3 separate regions of the Homo sapiens genome follow, and regions 1 and 3 are each reported to be linked to region 2. The links are microRNA targets in miRTarBase. Many come from high-throughput screens and were not tested one by one. Region 2 holds a microRNA gene; each other region holds the end of a gene's coding sequence.

The links. Region 2 holds the annotated microRNA hsa-miR-570-5p (AAAGGUAAUUGCAGUUUUUCCC, at 4,509-4,530, shown strand). A microRNA usually pairs through its seed, bases 2 to 8, with sites in the 3' UTR of a target mRNA and lowers its output. Matches are read on the target gene's strand: a 7mer-m8 pairs with bases 2 to 8, a 7mer-A1 pairs with bases 2 to 7 and ends in A, and an 8mer does both.
Region 1: miRTarBase lists MAP3K21 as a target of hsa-miR-570-5p. Seed matches in the 3' UTR shown: 7mer-m8 at 1,389-1,395.
Region 3: the mRNA of VMA21 is a reported target of hsa-miR-570-5p. Seed matches in the 3' UTR shown: 7mer-m8 at 3,645-3,651.

What each region holds. Positions count from the first base shown.
Region 1 is chr1:233,381,592-233,388,797 of GRCh38, forward strand. It overlaps MAP3K21 (mitogen-activated protein kinase kinase kinase 21), which reads left to right. Exons shown (of 10, transcript NM_032435.3): 10 at 714-3,557. The coding sequence ends at 1,120. Among named protein-coding and RNA genes, the nearest start is that of MAP3K21, 57 kb to the left of the region's middle.
Region 2 is chr6:99,120,116-99,127,321 of GRCh38, forward strand. It overlaps MIR548AI (microRNA 548ai), which reads left to right and starts at 4,494; the gene lies at 4,494-4,581.
Region 3 is chrX:151,404,083-151,411,288 of GRCh38, reverse strand. VMA21 (vacuolar ATPase assembly factor VMA21) reads right to left here. Exons shown (of 3, transcript NM_001017980.4): 3 at 1,925-6,373. The coding sequence ends at 6,231. Among named protein-coding and RNA genes, the nearest start is that of VMA21, 10 kb to the right of the region's middle.

The DNA of each region.
Region 1 (7,206 bases), not on the chromosome of region 2:
TTATTGTTCATTGCCTTTAGATAAATTGGTTTATTATCTTTCTGTAGGTCAATAAGTATTGGTAATTTATAATTGCACAAGGAGAAATTCTAGCACAGTAATCCCATATGAAAGCATATTTTTCTCTAACTTATAAGCCAATAATTATTTGCTAAAGTGGTAATAACATTATTCAGTTCTTCAGTACAAACAAGAAAAGAGGTGACGTGTAAAAGTCTAACTGCTTTTCCATTTTCATCAGTTTTGTCAAATCATAATCTACAGTGAAGTTTAATCATGTTGACCATCATTTTTAAACCTCTTAAATTTATTCCAGTCTAGTCCATTTTGAAAGCTACCGTTATAATATCATTATAATGACTCATAATTTTTATTGGCCTAAGCACTGTGAGGATTATTTAGCTCTGTTTACAAATATAATTTCCATAGGTTGAAGTACTCTTTGCAAACTTGCAGGACTTCAGCCAGGTGTGGTGGCACATGCCTGTGGTCCCAGCTACTCTAGAGGCTAAGGCAGAGTTCCTTGGTCCTTAAGGCCAAGAGTTCGAGGCTGCAGTGTGCTATGATCATGCCTGTGAATGCATGTTTTTTGTTGAAGCTCATTTTAAAGCTATCACTTTGTTGAATTGCCATCATAATTATTTTTCTTGATATTCATTGTTTTAGAACTCATTTTCTTTCTAACTGCATACTGTTTTGGCTTTCTCAACCAGCTGGTGCAACTATTATCTCAGCCACTGGAGCCTCTGCACTGCCACTCTGCCCCTCACCTGCTCCTCACAGTCATCTGCCAAGGGAGGTCTCACCCAAGAAGCACAGCACTGTCCACATCGTGCCTCAGCGTCGCCCTGCCTCCCTGAGAAGCCGCTCAGATCTGCCTCAGGCTTACCCACAGACAGCAGTGTCTCAGCTGGCACAGACTGCCTGTGTAGTGGGTCGCCCAGGACCACATCCCACCCAATTCCTCGCTGCCAAGGAGAGAACTAAATCCCATGTGCCTTCATTACTGGATGCTGACGTGGAAGGTCAGAGCAGGGACTACACTGTGCCACTGTGCAGAATGAGGAGCAAAACCAGCCGGCCATCTATATATGAACTGGAGAAAGAATTCCTGTCTTAAACTAAGTGCCTTACTGTTGTTTAAGCATTTTTTTAAGGTGAACAAATGAACACAATGTATCTACCTTTGAACTGTTTCATGCTGCTGTGTTTTCAAAAGCTGTGGCCATGTTCCTAAATTAGTAAGATATATCCAGCTTCTCAAAAAATGTATATGATTGCTGTTAGCCATGTCTATTGTTTTTCCTCTGGATTCTTTTCTTATAACTTGGAATACACAAAAGTGTAAAACAAGAGATGTGCACCAATGAAAACTATGCTGGGTCGAATTACCTTCAGCACAATGTTAATGTTTTTGTTCTCATTTATGCCTTTGTCCATTTGCACACAACAGAAATTGTAATGAGCTTCACTATTTTTGTTTCTTTCCTTCCTTTTTTTTCTTTTTTCCTTTCTTTCCTTTTTCTTGTCTTGTTTCTTGTTTTTTTTTCTTGTAGTTTCTTTTCTTAATTGTCATTTTTGCAACAAAAAGCCAAGAAAGAGCTTTAGTTTCTTGGCAAGAATAATGTGATATTAGTAAGTAAAGGTCTTAAAAGTCTGACGACTGGAATAGATATAAAGTCCTGTTTAAACTACCTAACCTTGGCTGTGGGCCGATAATGCATATGTCCAGTTCTCACTTAAATTATGCAATGATATTTCTCTCTGAGGAAATTATACGGAATGTAACTTATAAAAGCTTTACTGAATATAAGTTATAAGCATTTTATTCATTAGAACTCCAAAATAGATGTTCAAAGTTCAGTCCTTGCCATTTGACTGAGACCACATGGTGTGCCCCTTGAGTGAGGCTAATCTTTAGGTTTTTCCTATAGAAAACATTCTTCCTCCATCAGTAGCCCTTTATTTGATATTCAGAAGTGGAAAGCTTTTTCATTCTCCAGTAGAACTTTTAAAAATTGTTACAGATACCTAGCTCTTCACAGATATCATGTACTGTAAACAGTCATGTGTCTTAATTTTATTTTCTCTATTTGAGTGCATAATTATCCTAATAATCCCAAAGACACTGACAACTCAAGGAACAGCAGTACAGTACTATTAGAAGTTAAGTATGTTGTTGTTATTTCACATTTCATTTAATTGTGGATAAATGTTAGACATCTGTTGAAATAAGCTCATATGGTGGAAACGACAACTATATTATGAATTATTTTCAGAAATGGATCTTTGAATAGCAGATCAGGATTTAAATAATAAAATTATCTATGAATCACTTTTATGGTCATACATATATGATACAAATCCAGAGTTATTGGTGCAGAAATGGCTACCCGAGAGCTTGGTAAATTTGCCTTGGTTTCTTATGTTAAATGTATTGTGCTTCCCTTCTGTCTCTAGAATGTGGCTCTTCAGAAGACAGACAATCGACATTTAAATTTTTCCAAACAATGAAAAACTAAATTAAAAACATTGCTTGATATTTCATTTAAAATTGCACCTTGCTTAAGGTTTACTGAATAACTGAAATGTCAGCAATTTAAAATAAATTCAATTGTGTGATAAAATATCTCACCTATAATAGAAGAAAAGGAAAATCATATTATTTGGCAATTTTGCAGCATTGTGGTTGCCTAACAGGTATATCCAGCAGATGAGAAACAGTATGAAAGGATTGTATTAACATGGTAAGTTTTGCCCTAAGGAAAACGATCTTGCATTCTGGATTCTTGCAGCAAAGTCTCAGATACTTAATACGTTTTCTTGTTTTATCATCTGTTCTATGATTCGGCTTCACTTTGTGTGGTTATTGAATTATGTAACAGAGATTTGGTTTTCCCAAAATGTTATCACATTTGAAACTATGATTGCTTTGTGTTCAGTCCTTTTGGAACACGTAGCTTCCAGCTTAAGGGTAGAGAAATATATACCTAAAATCATCAATACATGAAAGAAAAAGGATGGAAACTATGTCCTCAGTTTTACTTCTACCAAAACATCCCTGTATGTGTGTGCATGTATGTTGGCGTGTGTGTGTGTGCATGCATATTAGTAAATGTGTGTTTGCATGTGTGTGTTGGGGAGTGTATGTGATCTGGGTGTTTGTTTATCTCTGTTATTATTCCCCTTTAGCTTTATTTTAGTCAACTCTACATTATGATGAATTTCAAAATGAAGCTGTATTAAAATAATTGTAATATAACAATTCAATCTCACATGTTACTGCAGATAGTTAACTTTTGCTGCAATCTATTGTACATTTGCAATTTTCTGTGTTAGTAAACTTAGCAGAATCTGGTTATTTATTTTTGTGTAGGCTTAATGTTCACTGAAAGATAAGTCAATTACTGTTAGTAAAAAATTAAGGTACTCTCACTGCAGAGATTTAAGGCCTGGGCCTAATGTGCTGTATTATGAAGCCTTGTGACTGAAAAATATGTTTACATATGTTGTCTATTTTTTTAATAAACTTTTATAGCTGGTCTATTTGCTCAGTAGCTTTGATCCTCTCTTGATTATTGTGACTATAGTTTGCAATGGTTTATTTTGTATTCAATAAGAAAAATTGTGTTAATAAAGATTATTGTTTAATAAGCCAGGTATTAACCTGCTAAATATATTAAACTGAAAATCACTAAATGAGTCATTCAATTAAATACATCAAAAAAGGTAGAATGAAATGTTTTATTTCAAATTTTTTTGGTTTACATATGCATTGAAAAGTTATATTTCATGGTGAGCGTTTTGCAAGTCCAGCTTTTCAGAAGACACACTTTTGCAGAGTGAAATGAGTATGAGAAAAAAATCTCAGTGATTAAGGAGACATGTTGATTTTATTGTTTAATTTTATGTTTAAATCAGAGGAATTTCAAACACCACTTAACATGTAGAAATTCTTACTAAGTGATAAAAGCTTGAGTGAATGAGGAAAGCAGATCGCAGGACTTCATGGAGATCATAGCATTACCCCACCACATGGGAGGGAGCAAAACGTAATGTGCATTGAATATCTGTTAAGTATGGGGAACCCTCCTAGGTGCCTATAGAAGACAACTCCTGTAATTCTCTTTAATAAAAATTGTGAGAGAAAGCCAGGCATGGTGGCTCACGCCTGTAATCCCAGCACTTTGGGAACCTGAGGTGGGCGGATCAAGAGGTCAAGAGATCGAGACCATCCTGGCCAACATGGTGAAACCCCTTCTTTACTAAAAATACAAAAAATTAGTCTGGCATGATGGTGCCCGCCTGTAATCCAAGTTACTCAGGAGGCTGAGGCAGAAGAATTGCTTGAATCTGGGAGGCAGAGGTTGCAGTCAGCCGGGATCGCACCATTGCACTCCAGCCTGGTGACAGAGTGAGACTTAATCTCAAAAAAAAAAAAAAAAAAAAACAAACTGTGAGATAAGTAATACTACTCCTATCGCATTAGATATGAAACAGACACAGAAAGGTTTGGTAAATTTCCAAAGACCCAGTCTGAGTCAAGTGATCACCATCTACCTGTTCACACCTGTGGTTAATAGTTGTAAGCATGGTGTAGAAGATGAGGACATCTTGCAAATGAGCTTTGTAAATGTTATCTAAAGCTAAGGTAGTTTCTCTCTCATCAAAAAGTCAAAAGTCTAAAAATGTATGAGTACCATTGAAGTTAAATAAGATATAGAGATAAATATTGAAATTTGAAACATTTTATTTAGGAAGCAAGAATTGCAATTCAGGACATACACAGAGACCAGGTGATCTTCAGTATGTCCAAAGAACAAAGAGACAGGAGTTTTATTAAAGAATTGTTACATATTGTTTTGAAAGAAAGCTCATTGGCACTAGAGAAGCTTTTGGACTCTGGCAAGCTCTGGTTGGTGAGTCATGGCAGGAATTAAAACAAGTCTTAGAGTCACAAATTGTTGCTTCAGCAGCTACCAGGTAAAACTGGCCCTGGGGTGACAGCAGGCCATTTCAGCAGCTGGGCTTGGAGAAAATACATTCGTGGAGTAGGTGCTATGTCCCCCACGTATGTTTTCCTCTCTGGCCCCTCAGTTCTGATTTAACTGAGTATGTATGACAAGAATTGCCCAATTTGTATTATTAACTTTCACAGTACTTATTTAAAAATAAAACACTATTAGCTAATAACACTTAATACAATGGAAAATGCAATAGAAAGGAGTAAAATATGCATATCTGATAGATCAACTCAGAGAAATGAGGTATTCTGTTCAATAGGTTCATAAATGCCATGGTCTGAATATGTCCCTCAAAATTCCTATGTTGAAATCGTAACCATCAAAGTTTTGGAATTAAGAGGTGGGAGGTAATTAGATCATGAATTCTCATGAATGGGGTTAATGCTGTTTTAAAAGAGGCCTGAAGGAAGCTGTTATCCCTTTACACCATGTGAGGACACAGTGAGAAACTGCTATATATACACTAGGAAACAGGCCCACAGCAGACACAGAGTCTGCCAGCACCATCATCTTGGACTTCCCAGCCTCCAGAACTGTGAGCAACAAATGTGTGTTGTTTAGAAGCCACCTACTTTATGTTATTTTGTTATAACAGCCCAGATGGACTAAGACAATAAATATGGTGAAATTATGTAAGAACTGCAATATACACATAAAATAATTTAATTGGGCTTAAGCTGTCTCTATTCTTTACTTCTGCAAAGATCAACATGCTGAAACATAGTGAAAGATGAAGTATTTGTGAATGAAACAATGTAATCGGTACCAGAGAGTGGAACAAAAACTAGCTATTGTTTGTGGTGGCAGGCGCCTGTAGTCCCAGCTACTCGGGAGGCTGAGGCAGGAGAATGGCATGAACCCAGGAGGTGGAGCTCGCAGTGAGCCGAGATTGTGCCACTGCACTCCAGCCTGGGCAACAGAGCAAGACTCCATCTCAAAAACAAACAACAAACAAACAACAACAACAACAAAACTAGCTATTGTTTTTACAACCAAGCAAAATATAGCAGGTCCACACATAACATTTTTTCATTCAATGTCATTCTGTTATAATATTAACGAGGAAAAAAATTTGATTCCCAGCCAGGGCTGCTGTCTGTGGGGTGTGCACTTTCTCCCCATGTCTGCGTGGGTTTTCTCCAGGGACTCTGGTTTCCTCCCACATCCCAAAGACATGCATGCCAGGTTAACTGGTGTGTCTCAATTGTCTGAGTGTGAGAGTGTGGGTGTGTGAGTGTGCCCTGCCATAGAATGGGGTTGATTCCCACCTTGTGCCTTGAGCTGCTGGGATGGGCTCTGGCCACCTGCGACCCTGAACCAGAATCACTGGGTATATAATTACCTTAAATTGTTTTCATTAATCTTAGATGTATGTATAGATAACATTTATTTCAATGTTTAGTGTTAGAAGTGTTTGGGGTCTTTATTTAGCGATTTAGTGGTGTTTTCGTGACCAGAAATATGCCCTAGGAACTTAACTGCTGTTTTTATTAATTCACCTGTAGTGAAATTGGTTTTGTGTTACCTTGTTTTGCTTAAAGTCACAGTTTCCAAATACCTATAGACAATGTTAAGTGAGGACTTCCTGTAAGTAGTTTAGATTGAGGAGCTTCCACACACTGACAAACTCGTTTAGTGGCTACTGTGTTAGGCACCACGAAAGAGACACCAGATGTAGCGGAGAGCAAGGAAGATGAGGCTTGTCCCCTGCCTGGATGGTTTTAATGAGAAACTGTGCTCAGGGCAACTGCATGGACATCATGTGACTTGTGCAGTCACACAGAGCCTCACACTCAGATGGTCCCTGAGCCTGACTTTCATGCTCTGTGAACATCATCTTGAAATTCTTAATAATTTTTAAAGAGGGAGCCCTCATTTTTATCTTTCACAGGGCCTCACAAGCTATGCGGCCAATTCTGACAACAAGCGAAGGGAGTGTTAAAAAAAGGTGAAGTCACTGGGGCTTTGATAGCATTAAAGGAGTTCATCTAATCTTGGGTGGGTGGGAGGTGTCAGGGAAGTGTCTGAGGAAGCCAGGATGTCCACTGGATGAGGAATGCTCCATGCAGAGTTGCTAGCTTGTGAAAAGTCCTAAGTCATTTTTCTTGTGCTGCATTCCATATTTTCTCTTTGTTTTTGGCTCTTAGCATTTTTGCCATGACACATCTAGTTATGGATCTCT
Region 2 (7,206 bases):
TCAATACAGCTTCTTTGCTATTAAGTCATAACAAAAGGACAAATTTCCTCTCCTATAAAGGTATTTCCCAAAGTCCAAATTAATTCTGTGACTCTGACCTAGAGTCACAATATACACTAAATCCAGTGCAATTCAGAAGTATGCATTTATTTCTGAATTTCATATATTTAACTGTTTGAAATCTTATTGAACTATCTTTTTTTTAAAGTTATGGTACTTTCTGTATCTGTTTTTCCCACTTTCAAGACAGAGTAAGATATATAATTAAATATAAACTTGCTTAAAGTTTTTAAATATTATCTTATTACATCCTTACCACAGAGAAATTATAGCTAGGCCTTCATCAAAATAACCAACTACTATGTAAACAGCATAAATGTGCTACATGCTATGCAGCTTCGTTTAAATGGAACTTGCCCCCTGGCCTTGAAGTTGTAAGTGAGACAGCACTGAAGACAGGTTGCACTGAGACAAAGAGCAGTGGCCTGGATATTGTTAAAAACCTATCACTAATTAATAAGAATTGGATGGATTACCCATTTTATTCATTTCCCTTGGCTTCATGACAATTATGCATTGACAACATCCTACACCACAACTACTGAAACCTTACAACACCATTTAAAACAAATTCAGTTTCAGAGAAAATGACACATTGCTAAAGCAATCACACATCCAGTCATTAAATCTGCTGCAGGGTCTGAACTGAACAGGCTAGAAATGAAGTAATGCTGCCACTTGTAAAACTGTCCATCTGCTAATGGGCACCCGCCAGCTATGACCAAAACTGATCTCCACAGGGTACACAGAGCAGTGGATTGTTCTGGGACAGCGGCGATTTACCACATCTCAGGGCCCTGTACTCACAGAGGAAGGGGGTGGAAAGGGGGAAGGTAGAACAGATTATTTTGCCATAAGGCAGATGAGAAAACCAATGCTAACTGTATAGTCATCACCTCTTTAAAGAACAAAAGAGAAGACTCCATAGGCGAACGGTCAGGCTATAACACTAACAAACTTCAGTAAATTCAGGAACTTCACAAAAGATAACCATCTTTAACTCGTCCTTGACCCTGTCTGCTCTTCTTTTATTTGGAACTTCATGGGTGAACATCATTCTCTAACCTCAAGATCATATGCACATGGGTGGGCACATGCACACATGTGTCTATCTTGACTGCTTCAGTGATCCTGTAGGTCTGACAAAGTCACATAAGAGATACTGGGCCAGGTGCAGTGGCTCACACCTGTAATCCCAGCACTTTGGGAGGCCGAGGCGGGTGGATCATGAGGTCAGGAGGTCGAGACCAGCCTGACCAACATGGTGAATCTGTGTCTCTACTAAAAATACAAAAATTAGCCGGGCATGGTGGCACGCCCCTATAATCCAAGCTACACAGGAGACTGAGGCAGGAGAATCGCTTGAACCTGGGAGGCAGAGGTTGCAGTGAGCCAAGATTGAGCCGTTGCACTCCAGCCTGGGTGAGACTCTGTCTCAAAAAAAAAAAAAAAAAAAAAGAGAGAGAGAGATCCTGAAACCACAAGTTATAGGAGTCTATATGCATGTGGGGGTATTTTTTGTCACCTGGTTAAAAGAAAGGCTTAGTCAACTGGATGCGGAAACTGCAGAAATCAACCTCTCCTGCTTTCAGGAATAGGCTCCTCTGCCAAGGCTAACACAGGAATATTCGGTTGATGAAGTGAATCTCTTTCTTCCGTCCACCTTTATCTCCCTCTGTATGAAGTAAAAACAGGAATGTCTGCTTTCTTAACAAAGAGGTTTTGCTAATGCTTGAGAAATGCCTTGACGGTGCAAAGTGATAGGTGTTACTGGAGTGAGGTACCACAGGAACAGACAAGCCAGGGCATGGCTGGCTGCTGGCTGCTCTGGTAACTGATGGTGCACCTGGGTGTTCTGTTTGGACCAGAGCACCAGACCTGCTCACACACCCTTCTCCCTTCCTCACTGACAGTCTCTAAATTGAGCAAATGCTGACAGCCAGTAGGAACAGGTCCCCAGCTTTCCTCCCCAGGGCTACCATGGTGCATGGACAGCCTTATTGTCAAACCGTTAAAGCCCAGTAAGATGAAAAGGCTTAAACAGTAATGAGCTGCAACTTATTTTCCGTCATGAAGTTTTCACTAATAAAGACTTTACATCTCTTCGAGTACATGAAAAAGAAAGCCTTTTGTTTGTTTTAAAAAAATGAGCCATCCAAAGACAGAAGCACATGAAAGAAAATCTCTTTTAAATTTGTCCATCTCTTTAAAATTTGGGAGTGACCATGAGGCAAGATAAGTCTATAAGGTATTTTGATAGAAATCATTAAGATAGACTTAAATTTATGAAATGAATAGGCCACACCTAATCAATCTATTTTCTTGGCCACCTTCCTGATCAATGTAGGTCAATCTCGTTTTAGCTATTATGTTTAATTGGTTTTTTTCAAAATGGTAGTTCCTGATCAGAATCATATGAGTCACAGTTCAATTCATCCACTTCATACTAAACTGCCTCTCTGGTAATGACAACTAATAGTGATTGTACACTTAGCATACACCAGACACATGCTGGCCTTGTCCATATATTACCACATTCAGTCTACACGACAGCCTTGCAAGAAGGGTTCACATTTATCCCCATTTACAGATAGGGAAACTTTGCCAAGGCTACCTAACAAATAGGGCAGAGTCAGGACTGGAACTCAGTGGACTCCCAAAATGGGCCTCTTAACCACTATGACATGCTCCATAAAACCCATGGAATCAAATCATTGATTCATACACAAATATATAGAGAGACATATATCTTAATGTACATATGTATTACATATACACACAAACACACACACACATATATATACACACACGCATATATGTGTGTGTGTGTGTGTGTGTGTGTTTACTCAGATATTCAGAGCCACGGTACTTAAAAAATGTGGGCAACCATTTCTAAACCTTTAAAAGAAATAGACAGTCTATGCATGTAGACCCTCTTAATGGTCAATGTAAATCTGGTTCATTTTGCTTTACCAGCCCATCTCTGGAATAATGAAAATTTACCAAGCTGAATATCCTTAGCACAACCTTTGGACGTATTGTCTGCATAATGTATAATACTATGCATGTTAAGAAAGGGGTCTTAATGCCACACGCCAGTCTCTGACAAACCCCATCCTTGAAGTTTGATTTAGTATTGTTGGTTTCTGATTTAATACCAAAAATAATTCCAACCCTATAAATCTGTTTACCAAGGAAGACGGAGATAAAGACACAGGGTATGAGTGTGTCTTCACATCTGATATTACAGGTGTGAGTTTAATCAGACCTAAAGTTTTTATTACATTTGTTGAAACGTACCCCGTGTCAATAGGGCTCTTTTTCTCATCATCTGTGACAAGGATGATGTTAATTTCTCATGAGTCACATGTGAAGCAACCAGGGAAAGAAATACAATCAATCCACCCAGAAATTGAATCCACAAAGGTACCTGGTAATGGAATAGAAATACCATAGAATCTCCTTAGAGTTAAGGTCTGGACAACATCTATTGCTTGGCACTGAGAAGAATTTTTTAAAAGAGAGGAAATGGGAGAAGGATAAAGTGGAAATCTAATTTTGAGAAATAAGGATTAAAGGTTCCATTATTCATGCTGTTTTCACTGTATATATTGAGTTAACAACATGTGATTTTACTGGATGAAAATGTGGGCCACATGCAAGGAGAGTGTGGTGCAGATAAATCCCCACAGCGACAGTAATGAGTGAGGGTTAGTGTCTTGTCTGCGTGAGGCTGTAAACAGTCCTGGGTTCTGAGCTGGTATAATAAGTGGAGATTGTTCCTGGACTTACTGGGGAGCACAAATAGTTTCCGCTACAGGAAAAGCAGCCCCCCCCCCCGAGGCAGAGAGGCGCGGCACTGCTATCTTCCTGGTTATCCCGTGGTAATGTGCGAATTGTGGGCCCCGAAGTGCAAACCCCGGCAGGGGGCGGGGCTGCAAGCTCCTCAGAGTTGGCTGCCTGCCTTCTTTTATTTATTTATTTATTCTTTCTACACACTGTTTTGCTGATACTTCACAGGTAGGTGTTTCTTTTGCCCCCTCCCCTTCCTTTCCCAAGGGTTAGGGGGTCAGGGAAAGAAAAATCAAGTTACAAGTTAAGTGAAGGAAACCCTCAGAAGCCCACGTGTGGATCAATCCATGTTGATGGGACAAAAAGAAGAAAAACAGGGAATAAACTGACTTCTGAGCTCTAGTGAGTTCCAATCTATGCCACCCTCACTAAGCCTACACACATTATAAAATGAATCACCTTTTGGCTGCCTGATATTCACTATTAGAAAGCCTGCACATCATCGTTAGAGCAAAGATCAAATCAGAAGAGAATCATCAATGGATGCAAAATTGAGGGGAGATTTCGATGCAAGGCAAGACATTTGAATGGTCTTAAAGTGCCTCCCTACAGATTGCTTATTAGTTGTAAGGGGAAATACAGTATTAGGTTGGTGCAAAGGTAATTGCAGTTTTTCCCATTTAAAATATGGAAAAAAAAATCACAATTACTTTTGCATCAACCTAATAATTATATAATGGAGGACCCAGGAAACATTTTGACTAAGTGATCAAAATTAACATCACCAATGAGGGGGAGATGCCCATCGTTCACCTCTGGATGTGTCCCATCAGCTACGGTGCATGTCAGCCAAGAACACATTCAGGTTAGCCAGAATCTAACCACGAGGAAGCATCTGACACAATGAGAGGTGTTTTATATATATATATAAAAAAAAATGGGGGCCTGTATTCTTCAAAAACGCCAATGTCAAAAAAGACAAAGCCTGTGGAAATGCTCCAGATTAAAGGAGGCTAAAGAAACATGACAACTAATTGCAATACCTGACCCTAGACTGGATCCTGTATTGAGGAGTCAAAATGCTACAAGGGCCACTAGTGAGCCAATTAGCAAAATTAAAATATGGACACTAGCCCATATAAAAAGTATTGTATCGATATTAAATTTCCTGAAGCTGATAGTTGTACTATGATTACATAAGAAAATATCCCTGTACTAGGCCGAGCACAGTGGCTCACACCTCTAATCCCAGCACTTTGGCAGGCTGAGGTGGGTGGATCACGAGGTCAGGAGTTCCAGACCAGCCTGGCCAAGATGGTGAAACTCCATCTTTACTAAAAATAAAACAATTAAAAAAAATTAGCTGGGTGTGGTGGCAGGTGCCTATAATCCCAGCTACTCGGGAGGCAGAGGCAGAGAATTGCTTGAACCCGGGAGGCGGAGGTTGCAGTGAGCCAAGACTGCACCACTGCACTCCAGCCTGGGCAACAGAGCAAGACTCCATCTCAAAAAAAAAAAAAAAGTTTAAAAAAAAAAAAGTATCCCTGTACTAAGAATGTGCCCTGGAATATTTAGTGATAAAGGACCATAATATACATGTAAATTACTTTTAAATGGCTCAGAAAAATAGTATGAGTATATATACATTTACATATATTGTATTATAGAGATATATGTAGATATGAAGAGAGACCACAAATAATAAAACAAATTGGGTAAAATGTTAATAGGTAAATGTGGCTAAAGACTTTATGATGTACCTTGTTCTATTCTAATTCTTACAAGTTTTCTGCAAGATTGAAATTATTTCCAAACACAAAGTTTATCTAAAAAAAATTAAGCTTTCAAGTCAGTATTGCATCTTCCTTACTTATTTCATTTAAATAAATGCTCAACTCAGAGGAAATTACACAGAGATGCACTGACACATTTTACCTAGTCACTTCCTTACTCTGAGTGTATCTGTTCTACCAGAACCAAGACATCCTGTACTCAAAATCCTCTCTAATCTCTAACCAATAATGGGGTATTGATGGCAGTCATGCACAAGACTGACAATTTTTCATGCATAAAAGAAAACCAATAAAACAAAATTGCATGCTATCTTTTAAAGCCATGTACTCTTCAGCATTGGGATTCTGAAGAAATTTTACATTTGGAAATTTCCAATTATGGTAATAGGTGTCTTACTCTGGTATTCAAACACAGAAATAAAGTATCTAAATCAATGGCATTCTGAACATATTCAGCCTAAGACATACAACATGGTTTGAAAAAGCATGTATTGTAAGTTATGTTACCACTGCCCTATTGTTTAACTGAAAATGTTTTAATATTTCTTCATGGATAGCCTGCAAACATCCAAGCAGTGGGCAACTCAACCCAGACTCTCAGTTATGAGATCTGAATTAAAATCTTGCATTTCTATTTGATCTCTTTCTAATCCTATAACTTGATGAAGAGACTGACTTTCCAAAGTTGAGCCCAATTAGGCTAAGAGGAGCCAAGAATTGTCCCCACGAAGCACCCTCTTCTCACCAACATAGTAGCTTTTTTTCAGCTCTTTATTGTTGTTTAGAATAGTGAAATTGGGTTAACCTATTACAAACATCTGAATTTATTAGCAACTTGAATGGCGAAAGGAAGAGCATCAAATAGAAAAAATATTTGCTTCAGGGAACTCAGCAGTCCTGAAGTGTTTACTAGCACTCCTTGCCTTGGTGGGTCCTGACCACCAGTTATCTACCCAGACCTGTGAAAGACTGTTCTCATTTTCTTGCTTCTCAGCCGCCACTTTCTGCTCAGCCTCTCAGCCTCCCAGCTGCCACTTTTCAGTGAGCAAATGTCTGATGTTCAATGTCAGGTTCACCTCTCTGCACTTCCCCTCTTTTCAGGATCTTGGTCATCTCCAGTTCTTGCTGCCACAGTTGTTCTTCAGTGCTTTCAGACAAATAGTTGTTAATATTTATCCAGCTGTTCTAGTTATTCTTACCAGGAGAGTTGGGCCAAAATAAAATATTCTGCCACAGCTGGACTGTCAATATAATTATTAAGTGGACAAAGTAGGACGTAAAACTTGGCCAGAGAGAAACTTGAACGTTGCTAATAAGAAAAAGAACCAAAGACAGGAAGGATTTGGCTTTTATATTAATAGACATGGAAGCAAACAAACTTATCATGAAGACTTGCGTGAATGTTGCCCATTATTCAGCAAGTGACCATGGAGCTTCCTTCCTCACACTTTCCTTTGTCTAAAAACTGGGTGATGCTTTTTGCCCCTATTTAACTTTGCACACTCACGGAGAGAAAAACAACTTCAGTGAGTTAAAGTGGTTTTCCTAGCTGCACTACATG
Region 3 (7,206 bases), not on the chromosome of region 2:
TTGTAGGCCACATATGGAGTCTAAATCTTCCTGAGTGAGATGGGGAGCTATTGGGAGGATTTTGAGCAGAGGCATGGTATGCCTGATCTATTATCTTTAAAGGAAACTTCTAGTTGCTTTGTGGCAAAGTGACCACAGGTGCAAGAAGGGCAGAAGAAACCAATTTGAGGCTCCAGGCGAGGAGTAAATCTGGGCTGGCCCGAAGTGGGAGCATTGAAGGTGGTGAGATGCACACAGATGCAGGGTGTGCCATTTGTAGTATCCCTTCCCTCAGGGCTGCTGGATCCTCTTTTGGAGGAAAGCATCCCTGGGTTGCCAGGTTGCGAACTAATGTTCTCCACCTTCATCCTGTATTTACCAAAAGGGCTAACCTCAATGCATCTTTAATGGACGCAAGAGCAGGGCGTATGTGAAAGGAAGTGCAGGCACGTAAGCAGTGAAAGGTAATGGGGGGCAGGGAAGCCAGAGGGTTAATAGCACAAATGTGCCTAGAAACCATTTCTGCTTTTCTCCATTACCTCTCTGGTTTAGAAACCTCAAATTCACATACTCCTATTGGTTTTCCTTCTCTCCAAAGTCCACAGCAGTGAGGATTCCAAATAAGAAAAAGGCATCACAGGCACAGCAGTGGCCATGTCTATCTACGCACGCCTCAGTTGTGTCTTAAGTTGGCTGTTCCCCGTACTAAAATTTTCATTCAACATCATTCATTAGCACTGAAGCAAAGTCAATATGGATTGTCAGGAACCCAGTAAAGGTCTCCTTATTTTAAATTGCACCTTCGATATAGCATTATCAACATTCTACCTTTGCCTAATAAGGTGTGTGCTTACTTCAGGCTTTATACAAACATCTTCAAGTCCATCATTAAACACATACACTGGGAGGCACAATTCTAAATCTCCAGCAGTAGTTCTCAATCCAGCTTCATGTTGATCACTGCCTGTTCCAAAATTTTTTTTTTTTTTTTTTGAGACAGAGTATTGCTCTGTCACCAGGCTCTCGGCTCACTGCAACCTCCACCTCCCAGGTTCAAGTGATTCTCCTGCCACAGCCTCCTGAGTAGCTGGAACTACAGGCACGCACCACTGTGCCCAGCTAATTTTTGTATTTTTAGTAGAGATAGGATTTCACCACATTGGCCAGGATGGTCTCTATCTCTTGACCTCGTGGTCCGCCGCCTCGGCCTCCCAAAGTGCTGGGATTACAGGCATGAGCCACCACGCCCTGCCCCAAAGAGCTTTCTAGGCCCCCACCCCCAGAGAGTCCGATTCAGAAGGTCTGGGTTACATTTGGGCAATCAGTTATTTTTAATAAATCCTACAAGGTGATTGCAGTAAACTTTCAGAACTGCTGTCCTGTAGTTTCTGCAATGCCATTACCTGTTTCCTGAGTTCCCTGGACATCTCATAACCTATAAAATTTGTTAATACTAAGACGTCTCAAATGTGTTTGGGAAGGGGATATTAACATTTATTAGTAAGAATTAGCTGGAGTCCTCAGAAGCACAGGAAGGAGCTGGAGTGCAATCAACGGGTGATTAGAGGACAGAGGACACAGGACATTGGTCATGAGGGGGTGGCATGTGGACGTCGTCAGGAATTATCTATTTCCACATTTCTCAACTCTCCTTTAGGGGCATTTGAAGCCCACCCCAGACGAAGTATAACCAGCCCTTTACAGCTCAACACCCCTCCCCCACACTCCCAATCAGTTTGAGCATTTCTGGTTGACATTTACTGCATAAAAACTTATCCTTGACAGCTCTCTATATAATCTACATAGCACAAACAGAGGCCAACGAACAAATTTTTTAAAGTGAGCTCTGTACATATTCTACATGTTATAAAATGAGAAGCAGGCAAACAAATTTTTAAAAACACAGCGGTTAATAAAACATTAATTGAATCAGGACACAGCAAAGTAGCACTACAAACACTTTTTTTAATGACATCAGATGGTACATTTATACAAATTACAAGCTACAATATAGTGAATACAAAATCCATCCAGAAAACGGTTAGAAAAGCATCACTTAACAGAAGTAAATCGGATTCAAGTAGCTAAAGAACTCAAGCCCCCCATTTTGATGATTATACACGGCTTGAAATGCAGCACATCCAAATCCTCCCCCTAGTCAGGGCACTATTCAATACTACAGCATATTCAATGACTCTAGTGATGTAAAGATTCTAACACTTTTAGCATCGACGTCAAGAGACATCTCGTAACAGGTTCACTATGCAAAACTCAAATGAGAATGTGTGAACGTTCTTTGCAAACTGTAAGGTGCTGTGCAGATGTTGTTAGCTATTGCTATTATTACTGTTCAGTGAGATTACACTGAACGTGGGGAAAAGGAAGACTACTCTGTATAACTGACAAATATGACTTACAGAACATCTTAAAAGGAATGCAGATATTACTTTCAAATACACATAGCAACAACACAGGCAAGGAAAGTGTGGCCAGGAGTGATGTCGAGGAATTCCTATTTTAAGGAATATATAAAGGATTAAGCTATTCATAGATTATGTGTAATATTTATCATTAGATTCCCAAAGTCCCTGAAAATAATTTATTTTTAAGGTGACCCTTTCCCCCTGAAAAGGGAAAAAGAAATCTTGTCAGGTTACTAATGTGCTGCTTCAGCCAGCTCTTGTAAAAATTATCTTAAACATAGGAGTACAGTCTGAATTAATAGTTATACTAATCTGGTGGGTGACACAGAGTGCTTGACAGCAGAGAAACCTGCCACTGACCTCAGACAAGTGACAAATTCTGTGTCAGAGTTGAACCATAAGTTTACAACTTCACTTGGGCATAAATTAAACAATAAACATGAACTTGTCTAGAGATAAGAAATACACACTAGGTACATCTAAAATCGGATTTAAATCCTTTTTATGTACTTTCGGGTTTCATCTTTCTTTGTATATACCCTACTTGTTTAACTGATTTTAGTGGTCTCCTTGGGTATTCTAACTGTATACATAAAATTGACATGAAAATGGAAAACAAACGCCAAACAAGTCAATTGGTTGTTTCTTTTGGCAAAGCTGATGACATTTTCATGATGAAAATGTTCCAATTATTAGGCCAGGCACGGTGGCTGATACCTGTAATCCCAGCACTTTGGGAGGCGGAGGCGGGTGGATCACCTGAGGTCAGGAGTTCGAGACTAGCCTGGCTAACATGGTGAAACCCCGTCTCTACTAAAAATACAAAAATTAGCCGGGTGTGGTGGCACGCACCTGTCATCTGAGGTACTCAGGGGGCTGAGGCAGGAGAACTGCTTGAACCCGGGAGGCGGAGGTTGCAGCGAGCCGAGATTGCGCCCTTGCACTCCAGCCTGGGCAAGAAGGGCAAAACTCCGTCTCGAAAAAAAAAAAAAGAAAAAAGAAAACAAAATGTTCTAATTATTACAATGTATTTCTGTTAGATTTCCATGAAACATGGGGATTTTTAATGGCAGGTTTAAATTTTTTTTCACTAACAACCCCAAACCAAATTCTACTGTTATATGTACAATGGTATCCATTTGAAGAACTAATGACATCAGATACATTCTACAGCAGACTTTTCATTTCTCAACACAAATGAGAAAAAGGACTACATTCTCCAGGGCCAAACAGGAGGTGAGGAAGGTAATGTGTTACCGTAAATAGGGTTAAATCAGTAGTTTGGACTGACACTTCAAGTTATATCTCCTAACTGAGGTTATTCTTACAATCAGTTTTCAAACAATAGGGAACATATTTCTACCTTAAAACATGTATAAGGGCTCAACTGTAGCTTTCCTTTCTATACATCTTGAAGTATATACATTGTGTAAAAGGAAACTAGTGAGACATTTTGAAAAATAAATCTATTTGCCAAATACCATATGTTATTTAACATAGTTAAAAACAGCAGCAAACTAGTGAGTTAACAGTTAAAACTCTAGGAAAAAACTGCTTTGAAAACAAGCCTATTTTGTTATAAGCCTAAATATCAACCCTAGCATTTGATTTTAACCTTCAAACATTTGGCGCTTTTTCCAAGAGGAAATTACAACTGCCTTTGCATATGCCCCTGGTTTAAATACTTGCAGAAAAATACCCATGTATCATCACCTATTCAGCAAATGCCTGAAACCAAAACAATAATCCAACATTGGACAGTAACATTTTACAAACAGCATAAGATCCCAAAAGCACAAGAAATACCTTGGCATTATATAAAAAGAAATTAGGTGGACAATTCTAAATACAACAATACTTCTTAATTAGGGACCATCTAGAAATCTACCACATACTACCCTAGACTCAAATGTCATTATACTAAAATTGTAGTCTTTAAGCAAGAATTAAAAACAGTTCCATAATAATCATACTGATCTTTCACTTTTCTCAACAGTTAAACACAAATGCTATTTGACTTTTATGACTAATCATCCCTCTATTCCTTTAGTCCAGTTTCACAACATAAAAAATAAATGTGAACAACAAATCGGTAATGGTTTCACATACTTAAGCAAGAATCCTAGTATTAGGATTATCAGTAACAGAAAATTTGAATTTTAAGAGAATAAAGATAGAATGTGCTTATTTAGAAAATGGTCAATAAGGCCGGGCGTGGTAGCTCACGCCTGTAATCCCAGCACTTTCGGAGGCCGAGGCGGGTGGATCACCTGAGGTCACAAGTTCAAGATTAGCCTGGACAACATGGTGAAACCCCGTCTCTACAAAAAAATACAAAAAAAAATTAGCCAGGCGTGGTGGCAGGCATCCGTAGTCCCAGCTACTTGGGAGGCTGAGGTGGAGAATCACTTGAACCCAGGAGGCAGAGGTTGCAGTGAGCCGAGATTGCACCACTGCACTCCAGCCTGGGCAACAGAGCAAAACTCTGTCTCAAAAAAATAAATAAATAAAATAAAGAAAAAGAAAAAGAAAATGGCCAATAATCACTCATCTGAAAAAAATGCAAATAGCTGTCAGGAAAAGCTGGCAGAATTTGAACTTGTAAGCTAAACTTTTAGTGTGTATCAAACTAGCATTAAGGAATGGCTTTCAAAAATGAATACGGGATATCAACTAAAATAGAGGTTATTTTTAGATGGCAACATTATGGGGAATTTTGATTTTTTTTCCTGTTTGAATATGTATTTTTCCAGTTTTCTACAAAGAACATATACTATGATTTTATAATTAAAAAACAAATACTTGTGGGAGTGTTTTTAGATTGCACATAATTAGTACCAAATAACTAGAAAGAACACAGACTAAAGATACGAAAATAAAATCAAGGTTTTTTTCCATCAGATATGCCCAAGGAGAATACTTTTTGGATGAAAAAAAAATGTTTTCCAGATTGTTTCCACTCCTAACATATGCAAAAATGAACATATTTAAATGCAAATTCCTATCATATACACTACAATTTTAAAAAATAGTAAAAAAAACAATTTTAAATGGAGCTTCCTCGAACCTTTTAATTGAAGCCTAGCTTCAATGTTGAATGAGGAAGCAAAGTATCTCATTAAAAAGTTGGTCTGCAAAGCACAAAGCTGGCCTGCAAGGGGACTTGAAGGAAGCAGGCTGAGTGTTTGAGTAGTGAGATCTTTGCTTTGCTCTTTAGATCCTTCAGTAAGCTAAGGTCCTTTTACCTGAATGGATGTAATTTAGCCTAGTTTTCCCATAAAATAATGTAATGGATAATTCTTATTGACTAGGGATTACACTTCATGTGAAATTCCTCAGTGACATTCAGATTAATTCCAGTGTCCACAATTTAAGCAACTTTCCATAGGAAATTAAAATCCCAAATCCAAGGACCTGGTATTTTCATGCTAAAGAAAGCATTCCAGCGTAAAGTGGAGTTTAATTTGCTTCACTGTGTGCATCTTAATATATCCAAATGAGTAAAACTCAAAAGCAACCGTAAGTCAGAATACTATAAAACATGTTTTGTTGAAAGAAGATAAAATTCCTTCCAGAGTATTGTCTAATTAAATTAACATATTTCTTTGTAACTAACTTTTCCAAATTCTCATTTGCAAATCAGATTCATACAGTTAAAACTGAATATACAAACCAACATATTAGAAAGATCAAAATTTACATACTCAAACGTGACTCCTTAAGACTGACTTTAACATGTTCTTTCAACTTTATTCAAATCAGATGGCCCCCTCCAGCATTTATCATTTTAAAAAATGAATTTAATGCTATAAAAAGGTGATGTTCACTTTAATCCTGTTTGCCTTCACGCCACTGTCGTGAGCCTTCATTCCAGGCCACATACACAAAGAGGGCCAGCACCACATGGACGGCGACCACTGCAACAATAGCAGCGTAAAAATAGCTGTCCCTATTGGACATCCCAAGGGCGCCTATCAAGAGAAAAAAAACAGTTTCCATTTTATTGCAAAATTTACCAAAGTACAAAAAAAAAAAACAAAGCATCCTAATTTTTATGATGTATTTATTTAACTAGTCAGGCAATTAAAAAGTAATATTTTGGGTGGTAATGAATAAAGTATTCACTAAAAGATATGAGTACCTTCTATATATTAAGAACATTATGTTGGCCGGGTGCAGTGGCTCACGCCTGTAATCCCAGCACTTTGGGAGGCCAAGACGGGCAGATCACGAGGTCAGGAGATGGAAACCATCCTGGCTAGCACCGTGAAACCCCGTCTCTACTAAAAATACAAAAAAAATTAGCCAGGCGTAGTGGCAGGCGCCTGTAGTCCCAGCTACTCGGGAGGCTGAGGCAGCAGAATGGCGTGAACCTGGGAGGCAGAGCTTGACGCGAGCCGAGATCGCACCACTGCACTCCAGCCTGGGTGACTGAGCGAGACTCCGTCTCAAAAACAAACAAACAAACAAACAAACATTGTTTTAAACAAAACCATAATTATAAAGACTTCAGGCCGGGTGCGGTGGCTCACGCTTGTAATCCCAGCACTCTGGGAGGCCGAGGCGGGTGGATCACCTGAGGTCACGAGTTCGAGACCAGCCTGGCCAACATGGCGAAACCCCGTCTCTACTAAAAATACCAAAAATCAGTCGGGTGTAGTGGCGGGTGCCTGTAATCCCAGATACTCAGGAGGCTGAGACAGGAGAATCGCTTGAACATGGGAGGCGGGGGTTGCGGTGAGCCGAGATCGCGCCATTGCACTCCAGCCTGTGCAACAAGAGTGAAACTGTCTCAAAAAAAAAA